2 separate regions of the Homo sapiens genome follow, and region 2 is linked to region 1. The links come from fine-mapping of genetic effects on gene expression. A gene starts in region 1. The other region holds a variant in brackets. All regions are shown on one strand. Distances are between the middles of the regions. Region 1 holds the start of BTBD2 (BTB domain containing 2). Region 2 holds the start of LOC124904610 (a long non-coding RNA gene).

The links.
Region 2: its variant is fine-mapped to the expression of BTBD2 in visceral fat (GTEx, PIP above 0.99). The same link has a PIP of 0.9 or more in atrial appendage and uterus.

The regions. Positions count from the first base shown.
Region 1 is chr19:2,013,321-2,018,683 of GRCh38, reverse strand. It overlaps BTBD2 (BTB domain containing 2), which reads left to right and starts at 2,970. Exons shown (of 9, transcript NM_017797.4): 1 at 2,970-3,387. The coding sequence starts at 2,981. It overlaps LOC107985278 (a long non-coding RNA gene), which reads left to right. Exons shown (of 4, transcript XR_001753845.2): 3 at 1,384-1,501; 4 at 1,590-2,339. RefSeq lists silencers at 3,164-3,313, 3,324-3,373.
Region 2 is chr19:1,984,322-1,989,684 of GRCh38, reverse strand. BTBD2 (BTB domain containing 2) reads left to right here. Exons shown (of 9, transcript NM_017797.4): 6 at 1,993-2,185; 7 at 2,432-2,519; 8 at 2,709-2,855; 9 at 3,036-4,237. The coding sequence ends at 3,197. LOC124904610 (a long non-coding RNA gene) reads right to left here and starts at 1,993. Exons shown (of 2, transcript XR_007067086.1): 1 at 1,191-1,993; 2 at 1-727. The variant C/T (reference allele first, on the strand shown) is at 3,164.

The DNA of each region.
Region 1 (5,363 bases):
AGCTACCATGGCTGGCCTACAGCTCTTTAAAAAAAAAAAAGTCCAGGCGCGGTGGCTCACATCTGTAATCCCAGCACTTTAGGAGGCCGAGGTGGGCGGATCACGAGGTCAGGAGATAGAGACCATCCTGGCTAACACGATGAAACCCCGACTCTACTAAAAATACAAAAAAAAAAAAAAAATTAGCCGGGCATGGTGGCAGGCGCCTGTAGTCCCAGCTACTCGGGGGGCTGAGGCAGGAGAATGGCATGAACCTGGAAGGCAGAGCTTACAGTGAGCCGAGATTGCACCACTGCACTCTGGCCTGGGTGGCAGAACGAGACTCCATCTCAAAAAAAAAAAAAAAAAAAAAAAAAAAAAAAATCGTGAACATCTCAGCATTCCGTAAAGTTCACCCTTTCCTCAGACAACCTACCATTTTGTTAATTTCTGTCACCATGGCAGGTATGCCTGTTCTGCACCTTCATCTAGAAGGGACTGCACAGATGTCCTCTTTAGGATTTGGCTGGAAAGATGTCACTTTGCAAATGTATGAGATGAGAGATAAGAAAGTTGACATTTAGAGGCCGGCTGTGATGGCTCCCGCCTGTAATCCCAGCACTTGGGGAGGCCAAGGCAGGCGGATCACCTGAGGTCGGGAGTTCGAGACCAGCCTGACCAACATGGAGAAACCCCGTCTCTACTAAAAATACAAAATTAGCCGGGCGTGGTGGTGCATGTAATCCCAGCTACTCAGGAGGCTGAGGCAGGAGAATCGCTTGAATCCGGGAGGCGGAGGTTGTGGTGAGCTGAGATCGTGCCACTGCACTCCAGCCTGGGCGACAGAGCAAGACTGTCTCAAAAAAAAAAAAAAAAAAAAAAAAAAATATATATATATATATATATATGTATATACATACACACACACACATATAAAATTAGCCAGGCATGGTGGCAGGCGCCTGTAGTTCCAGCTACTCGGGAGGCTGAGGCAGGAGAATGGCGTGAATCTGGGAGGCGGAGCTTACAGTGAGCCAAGATCGCGCCACTGCACTCCAGCCTGGGCGACAGAACGAGACTGTCTCAAAAACAAAACAAACAAACAAAAAAAAATTAGCCTTAGCCAGGCGTGGTGGCGGGTACCTGTAACCCCAGCTACTCAGGAGGCTGAGGCGGGAGAATTGCTTGAACCAGGAGGCTGAGATTGCAGTGAGCCAAGATCGCCATCACTGCACCCCAGCCTGGGCAATAGAGGGAGACTCTAAAAAGAAAAAAGAAAAAAGAAAAAAAAATTGTAACTACCTCAACCACCCACTCTGGAGAACTGAAAATAGCATTATCACTTGGGTTTTTTTAATACCCTATTTTCTTTTTCTTCTTTGTTTTTTTTTTTTTTCGAGACAGGATCTTGCTCTGTTGCCCAGGCTGGAGGGCAGTGGTGGAGTCATAGCTCATCAAAAGCTCAACCTTCCAGGCTCAAGTGATGCTTCCGTCTCAGCCTTCTGAGTAGCTGGGACAACAGGTGCGTACCACCACGCCTAGTTTTTTTTTTGTTTTGTTTTGTTTGTTTGTTTGTTTGTTTGAGACGGAGTTTTGTTCTTGTTGTTCAGGCTGGAGTGCAATGGCGCGGTCTCGGCTCACTGCAACCTCCGCCTCCCAGGTTCAAGTGATTCTCCTGCCTCAGCCTCCCGAGTAGCTGGGATTACAGGCACCCGCCACCAAGCCTGGCTAATTTTCGTATTTTTAGTAGAGATGGGGTTTCACCATGATGGGGTTTCACCAGGATGGTCTCGATCTCCCGACCTGGTGATCCGCCCGCCTCGGCCTCCCAAAGTGCTGGGATTACAGACGTGAGCCACCGCGCCTGGCTAATTTTTGTATTTTTTGTAGAGACAGGGTTTTGCCATGTTGCCCAGGCTGGTCTCCAACTCTTGACCTTAGGTGATGCACCCCCCGCCTTGGCCTCCTGAAGTGCTGGGATTACAGGCGTGAGCCACTGCGCCCGACCTGGTTCCTCAATCTTTGTGGCATTTGTCTACCTTGACATTATGTATGTAGTAAGCGTTTTGGGGGAGTCCCAGCTCCGTCCACACTGACCACCCCCCACACCTGGCCTGGAGAGGGTGCTGGGCGTCTGCTGAGTGTCAGTGCACGTGGCCTGCATCCTGCTCGCTCATCCGCAGCTTCCCGGCCTCAGGCTATGTCTCTGTACAGCGGAGCCTGCGCCACGGAGCAGGCCCGCCACCTGGGTCCGGGGTCTGGGGTCTGGAGTTTGCGCTTGGTCTTTGGGTTGGGGGTTCCGGGTCTGAGGTATGGGATCTGGAATCCGGAGTCTGAAGTCTGGGGTTCAGAGTCTGGGATCTAGGATTCAAGGTCTGAGGCCTGGGATCCCGGACTGAGGTCTGTGCTCCAGGGTTTAGGATTCCCGGTCTGGAGTCTGGGGCCTGGTGCCTGGACCCCAAATTCTGGACCTCGGTCTGGAGTCTGGGCTTCAGGTCAGGATGCTTAGGGAGTGGAGCAAGAGGTCTTCCACCAGCTCCTCCCCTCTACAGGCCCCTCCTACTCTTCCCTCTCCTCCCCGTCCCCTCCCCTGCAACAGCCTCCCCCATTCACCTCCCTTCTCCCCTCCCTCCTCCCCTCCCACCTCCCCTCCTTTCCCCTCCCTCTCCTCCCCTCCCTCCTTCCCCCTCCTTTCCCCTCCCTCTCCTCCCCTCCCTCCTTCCCCCTCCTTTCCCCTCCCTCTCCTCCCCTCCCTCCTTCCCCCTCCTTTCCCCTCCCTCTCCTCCCCTCCCTCCTTCCCCCTCCTTTCCCCTCCCTCTCCTCCCCTCCCTCCTTCCCGCTTCCCCTCCCCTCCCTCCTCCCCTCCTTTCCCCTCCCTCCTCTTTTCCCCTCCCCTCCCTCCTCCCCCTCCTCCCCCTACTCTCCTCCTTTCCCCTCCCTCCTTCCCTCCTCCCCTCCCTCCTTCCCTCCTCCCCTCCCCCGCCCACGCCGCAGCCACAAAATGGCGGCGGGTGGGAGCGGCGGGCGTGCGTCGTGCCCGCCGGGGGTCGGGGTCGGCCCGGGCACGGGGGGCAGTCCCGGGCCCAGCGCCAACGCCGCCGCCACCCCGGCCCCCGGCAACGCGGCCGCCGCCGCCGCCGCCGCCGCCGCCGCCGCCGCCGCCCCTGGGCCGACGCCGCCCGCCCCGCCGGGCCCCGGGACAGACGCGCAGGCCGCGGGCGCGGAGCGGGCGGAGGAGGCGGCGGGCCCGGGGGCGGCGGCGCTGCAGCGCGAGGCCGCGTACAACTGGCAGGCCAGCAAGCCCACCGTGCAGGAGCGCTTCGCCTTCCTCTTCAACAACGAGGTGCTGTGCGACGTGCACTTCCTGGTGGGCAAGGGGCTCAGCTCGCAGCGCATCCCCGCGCACAGGTGGGCGCCCCGACCCCGCCAGCCCTGGCCCCGACCCACCCAGCCTGCTGCCCGGGCCCTGCACCTGAGGCCCTGCACCCCTCTGTCCCCGAGACCCCCGCACCCCTCCATCCCCGAGCCCTGCACCCCTCTGTCCCCGGGACCCCTGCACCCCTGCATCCTCAGGCTCCGAACCCAACTCGGCCTGCACCCCGGGGCCTGCACCTGAGGCCCTGCACCCCTCTGTCCCTGGGACCCCTGCACCCCTCCGGTCCTGAAACCGACCCGGCCTGCACCCCGGGGCCTGCACCCTTCCATCCCTAGACTCCACCCAGTTCCCTGGGCTCTGCACCCCTCTGTCCCTGCCTCTGCACCTCTCTGTCCCCAGACCCCACCAGGCCTGCACTCTGGGCCTCTGCACCCCTCCATCCCCAGGCCCCCCTGGATCCTCCACCTCTGGCTTGCGCCCCCAGCCTGTTCCCCGGGATCCCAGGCCCTGTACCCCTGGGACCCCTGCTCTCCTCCGTCCCTGGACCCACCCAGCCTGCACTCCGGTACCCTCCGTTCCTGGGACCCTCCAACTCGGCCTGCACTTGGAGCCCCTGGGCCCCTCCATCCTCAAACCCCACCCAGCCCGCACCCCAGAACCCTGAATACCCCATCCTCAGGGCCCTCCACCCCCCGCCTGCACCCTAGGACCCTCCATTCTTCCATCCCCAGGACGCTCCATCCCTGGACCTCACCCCTCCCTGCACCCCAGGTCCCCAGACACCTCTGCCCCCAGATCCCTGGGCCCCTCCACCTCCGGCTGGAACCCCTGCCTACACCCCAGGCCCCTCCATCCCTGGACCCCACCTGGCCTGCATCCCTGGGTCCCCTCCATGCCCTGGCCCTGCACCCCCACCCACCACCCCTGGGACTCCTGTGACCCTCCAACCCTGGGACGTGTACCCCTATCTGCTCCTCCATTCCCAGGACCCCAACCCACTGTTTCTAGGACCCATGACCCCACATGCCACACCCCTCCATCCCTATACCCGGGGATCCTCAGGACCCCTCCATCCCCAGGCCCTGCACCCTTGCCTGCCGCCCCTCTCCCCCTGGGACCCCTACTGGTGACCCCTCCGTCCCTGTACCCAGGGACTCTCCAGGACCCCTCCTTCCCCAGGTCCTTCACCCCTGCCCACTGCCCTTCCACTCTCTACTCCCGGGGCCCCCTGGGACCCCACTACACTCAAGTGTGTCACCCCTGCATCCCAGGATGGAGAGACTTCTCCGCTCTCACCTGAGACCCCCCGTCCCCAGTCCTCACCACCTCAGTCCGTAACCCCCAACCTATGACTCCTGAACTCCAGGACCCCTCCCTTCAGGGGTCGTGCTATTTCCTCCACCCCCACCCATGACCACAAGACCCCTCCCTCTTCCCCCACCATCCAGGGACCCTGCCACTCCCACCCGCACCCCTGTGCGCCAAGACCCCTAGGCCTTGCTCCCTGCGTCCTCCCTGCTGCCTCCAGACCCAGTGACCCCCACCGGAGACCCCCAGGCTCAGCACATGATCTGGATCAGAGACCTTCAAACCATGCTGCTCCCCTCCAGGGATACCCCCTGCCCGCCCTGCAGTCCAGATCATAGACTACCATCCACAGCCCCTCCAGCCCCGGACCCCCACCTCAGCCAGAGACCCCTGGGCCCTGCCACCTCCCACTTCAGTGACCACCCACCTCCAGCTCCGCCACTGCCAGGCTCTGGACCCTGGACTCTGCAGAAGGTTGTCTCCCCTGGGCCCTGCTACCCCCTGCACCCCATCCTATGATCCCCTGCCACCAGGCCACCACCCTAGACCCCTGCCCAGACTCCCATCTCCGGGCCCTTCCAACCCAGAGACCCCCAGCTCCGGGGTCCCTCCCTCCCCAGCCCCCAGCCCTCCTTTCTGGGAAAGAAGTGGGTTTGGCCCAGTATCTGTCTTTGCCAGTGTGCGGGGTACCGGCCCCAGG
Region 2 (5,363 bases), 29 kb after region 1:
TGTGACGAGCTCAGGAGGGCTCTGACATGGCCGGGGTGGCTGTCATGCGCCCGAGTGGGCCTTGGGGTCCCCTGCTGCAGGGCCTGGGTTCCAGGGTGACGTGAAGGGGCAGCGCTAACGATGCCTCCTGCCCTCGTGGCTGCTCACTGCCTGACGCCATCCAGCTCTGGAGCAAAACAGGCCTGGAACTTTCCAGAAGGGGCTGGGACAGAGCCCTGGGGCTGGTGCACACTCGCCGTCTGGCCTTCCCCAGGTCCACGCGGCCCCCGCTCTTGCTTAGCTGAAGGTCGCCAGATTTAGCAAGAGGGTCTCTGTCGCCCAGGCTGAGTGCGGTGGTACAATCACAGCTCACTGCAGCCTCGACCTCCTGGGCTCAAGTGATCCTCCTGCTTCAGACTCCGGAGTAGCTGGGATCACAGGTGCCACCACCACACAAGGCTTATATTTGTATTTTTTTGTGGGGACAGGGTCTTGCTATGTCACCTGGGCTGGTCATGAACTGGGCTCCAGCCATCCTCCCATCTCGGCCTCACAAAGTGCTGGGATTATGGACATGGGCCACCGAGCCTGGCTAGATACATACTTCTTAAAAATACAACTGTTGATCAGCTGGGTGTGGTGGCTCATGCCTGTAATCCCAGCTACCCGGGAGGCTGAGGCAGGAGAATCACTTGAACCCAGGAGGTGGAGGTTGTGATGAGCCGAGATCGCGCCACTGCACTCCAGCCTGGGCAACAAGAGTGAAACTCCATTTAAAATAAAAAAATATATACAATTGTTGGCCAGGCTGGGTCACTCACTCCTGTAATCCCAGCACTTTGGGAGGCCCAAGATGGGGGGAATCACTTGAGGTCAGGAGTTTGAGACCAGCCTGACCAACAGGGTGAAACCCCGTCTCTACTAAAAATACAAGATTAGCTGGGCATGGTGGCGCATGCCTGTAAACCCAGCTATGCTGGAGGCTGAGGCAGGAGAATTGCTTGAACCCTGGAGACGGATGTTGCGGTGAGCCGAGATTACGCCACTGCACTCTAGCCTGGGGGACAAGAGCGAAACTCCGTCCTGCACTCTAGCCTGGGGGACAAGAGCGAAACTCCGTCTCAAAAAAAAAAAAAATTGTTAACATTGTTTATTGAGTTTTGATACTCAGTCTTCCTGATTCACTTAACCCATAATGGTCTGTTTCTCACCAGTTATTAAACTGTGTCTGCACTGGGCTGGCTTGCAGCTGAGCGATGCGGAGTTGAGCCCACCTTGGTTGATGAGTGATTAGGTCTCAGGCAGGCAGGGCTGCTCTCATTAGAGCAGAGGGTGCTGTGTCCTGGCACTCCTGGGGGTGGATGGTGGACCCCCAATTCTGCCCCTCCTGGCCTCCCCTCCCTACCCAGAGCCCCTTCACATCCCATGCACAGTCCCTCTGCCTGTGACATCTCTGCACCGGGATTAAGAGCCTGGCTCTTGGAGTCTGCCTGGGGTCCGCTAGCCATCACCCCTGGGGGTGTAAGCGCTTGAGAAGGTGTCTGCCTAGGGCCCACCGTGGAGAGGAACCCCCAGACTGCTTCTAGAAGCCAGGGCTGCAGCCTGGGGGGTACAGGCCTAGCAGGGAGCCACAGTGACCCCTCCCAGCCAATGGCCCTGAGAGAACAGGCAGTGGAGCCCCCCGCCCCCACCCACAGTGAAGTGACGGGTGGTCCCTACAGTGGGGCCAGACCCTGAGACATCACCCCTGAGTGAGTGCATCTGTCAGACCCTGAGGCATCGCCCCTGAGTGAGCGTATCTGTCGGCCTCTGGTCTGTGCCCTGGGACCTCTCCCTAAAAGCCCAGGCAGCAGGGGCCATGGCTGGTGGCTAGTCCCCCGGGGAGGGGCTGCCCAGGTCCCTGCACCTTGAAAGTCCGACGCAGACATCTTAGGGGGAAGGAGCGTGTCCTCCCAGGCACTCGGGATCCTGGGGTGCAGCCCGGCCCTCCCCCACACCCTCCCTGTGCTGCAGGTCCCGCACAGTCGGGCATCCTGGTGGACCGCGAGGTGGTCAGCCTCTTCCTGCACTTCACCGTCAACCCCAAGCCACGAGTGGAGTTCATTGACCGGCCCCGCTGCTGCCTGCGTGGGAAGGAGTGCAGCATCAACCGCTTCCAGCAGGTGGAGAGTCGCTGGGGCTACAGCGGGACCAGTGACCGCATCAGGTGGGGCTTGGGGTGCAGGCGGGGGGGTCCGGACATGGGGGTGGAGGACTCGGGGATGACGGAGATGGGGGGCCGGGCATGGGGGTGGAGAACTCAGGGATGATGAAGACGGCGGGGGGGCCGCCGGGCATGGGGGTGGAGGACTCAGGGACGATGGAGGGGACCGGGCATGGGGGTGGGCTCGCCCCAGCTCACCTTAGGCTATCCCTGGGTATCCACGCTGCTGCCTGTCATCTGCCACGGCAGGTTCTCAGTCAACAAGCGCATCTTCGTGGTGGGATTTGGGCTGTATGGATCCATCCACGGGCCCACCGACTACCAAGTGAACATCCAGGTACCAGCCCCAAGCCTCATCCCCAGGCCCCACTCAGGCCCATGTCCTCTCTCCACCTCCATGGAACCCTGGCTGAACCCCCGGCCCTGGTCCCTGTGCTGCCCCCACCCTGGGCAGGTGGGCTGGGCCTCGAGGGGTCCCCGTTGGCCCTCCCCAGGCCTGAGCCTCCCACTTCCCACCTCCCCGCAGATTATTCACACCGATAGCAACACCGTCTTGGGCCAGAACGACACGGGCTTCAGCTGCGACGGCTCAGCCAGCACCTTCCGCGTCATGTTCAAGGAGCCGGTGGAGGTGCTGCCCAACGTCAACTACACGGCCTGTGCCACGCTCAAGGTGCGCCGCCGGGGACAGGGGTCCCTCCGTGGGAGTCTCTGGCCCATCCTGAAGCCACCGGGGCACAGCACACACTCTCCAGAGGCAGCCACCCTGGCCCAGTCGGGGCCTTGCCCTGTCCACACCTGGGGCATCCCAGCCTGGTGGTCCTTGACCTCACTGTACCCCTATTCCCTACAGGGCCCAGACTCCCACTACGGCACCAAAGGCCTGCGCAAGGTGACACACGAGTCGCCCACCACGGGCGCCAAGACCTGCTTCACCTTTTGCTACGCGGCCGGGAACAACAATGGCACATCCGTGGAGGA[C/T]GGCCAGATCCCCGAGGTCATCTTCTACACCTAGGCTGCCCGACACCGACACCGCCCTCCCTCCGTGGGGATAGCCGCAGCCCCAGGCCATCATCTGCTGCTGGGGCCCCCCCACCACGCGGTGCCAGGCCCAGTGTCCCCCAGGCCGTCTGTCCACTCCATGCCACCTTTCTCAGCATCAGGACGGGGTTGCCCTGTGTTCACCACGAGTGTGGCTGCTGGATCAGGGCAGCCGGGGAGGTGGCCAGGCCAGTGGCCAGGCCCTGTGGAGACAATCCCTCAGGACTAGGGACAGGGCTGTGCCGGCCTGGGCCAGGGCCCACGGACCCGCAGCTCAGGGCGCCTGCCCACGTCGTCTGCCGGCGGTGCGCCGCGGGCGTCCCTCGCGTCTCTTCACTGCACATTGCAATGCATTTGCGATTCCCATTTCTCTGCTAGGAGCCAGCCTGGGTGGCGCTGCTCCCAGAGCCGTGGGTCCCAGACCTTGCGTTCCTTTTGTTCCTGTCCGTTTATCAGGACACGGGCCCCACCTGTCACGTGCCCGAGGCCACCCAAGCCCAGCCTGCGGGGCGTTCCCACTGCCTGGATGCCGGCTTGAGTTCTGCGCACGCAGGATTCAGTGTGGGGACGGCCCCTGCCGGATAGGCCTAGCCCTGGCCCAGGTGGTGAGCGGTTTGCAGTGTCCGTTCTCATCCACCTGATGGGCCCAGATAAAGGCCCCCGCTGTCCAGCCTCCCTGGACGGCCCTCGCGGTCCCTGCAGCCCAAGATGGGACTCAGACCCTGTGCCCCAGAGCTCCCCTGCCGCAGAATGGGGCCCCAGCCGGCCCCGACCGGGTCCAGGAGCACTGCTCGCCTGTACATACTGTTGCCCTAGCCCACCTGGTGCCGTGGGAGCCACCCCCAGGTGCTGGGGGCACAGCCCCTCCCCACTCCGGCCACGCCCCCACCCACCCCGCGTGTTTCTGCCCTGTGACTCCTGGAACCTGCGTCCTCCCCAAAGCCATGGGAGGGGTGTCCTCCTCAGACCATGCCCCCAGATGATTTTTTTAAATAAAGAAACAAATGCACCTGCCTTGAGCGCACACTGCTTTGCTCCCCTTCACTCTCTGCCCTGTCATCCGGGCTGCAGTGGGCGAGGGATGTCGTGCGCCGAGAGGGGCCCTGAACCCCGGGTCTGGTCGCCAGTGCTGCGAGACCCTCCTTAAGTACCCACAGGCCACACTGAAGCCCGGGAGGTCGAGACTGCAGTGAGCAGTGATGCACCACTGCCCTCCCCCCTGGGCAAGAGCAAGACCCTAACTAACTCAACACCTCCCCCCAAACCCAAATGCAATGGACGTGTGTGCCGATTTCCCCGTGGGGAGGCCCTGCTGGCTGCTGGGGGACCGTGGATGTGAGAGATGGAGAGAAAGCAGGGAGTGCCCAGTTGTGGCCTCAGTGGCCAGAGAAGTCAAGCCGTTGGCTGCTGCCTCAGGAGCACACGTGCAGGGCAAGACATCAAGAAACCCGGCAGCAAGGCCGCGTGGTGGCTCACACGTCATTACAGCACCTTGGGAGGCCGGGCGGGTGGATCACCTGAGGTCAGGAGTTCAGGACCAACCTGGCCGACATGGTGAAACCCCATCTCTACTAAAAACACAAAAATTAGCCAGGTATGGTGGCAGGCACCTGTAATCCCAGCTACTTGGGAGGCTGAGGCAGGCGAATCGCTTGAACCTGGGAGATGGAGGTTGCAGTGAGCCAAGATGGTGCCATTGCACTCCAGCCTGGGCGAGAAAGCAAGACTCCGTCTAAAAAAAAAAAAGCCAGCCGCAAACAGTTGCCAGGAGGCTGAAGGCTGAGCAGATCTCCACAGTGCGCAGTGCTGGGAGCAGGCAATGGAGATGGAGGCTGGCGGGGTAGGGGGCCTTGTCGAACACCCTGGGGGCCGGGCGTGCTGGCTCACACCTGCAATCCCAGCACTTTGGCAGGCTGAGGCAGAACTGCTAGGGGCCAGGAGTTTGAGACCAGCCTGGGCAACACAGCAAGACCCCATCTCTAAAAAAATACATATTAAAAGGAAACACCTTGGGCTTCTAATGAAGACACCAGAAGGGCCACCCACCAGGAGCTAGGGCAACACTCCTGTGGGGAGGACAGAACGGAAGCCGTCATCACTCCAAAACAAAACCCTGGTAGGGTCTCACTGGGCTGCTGTT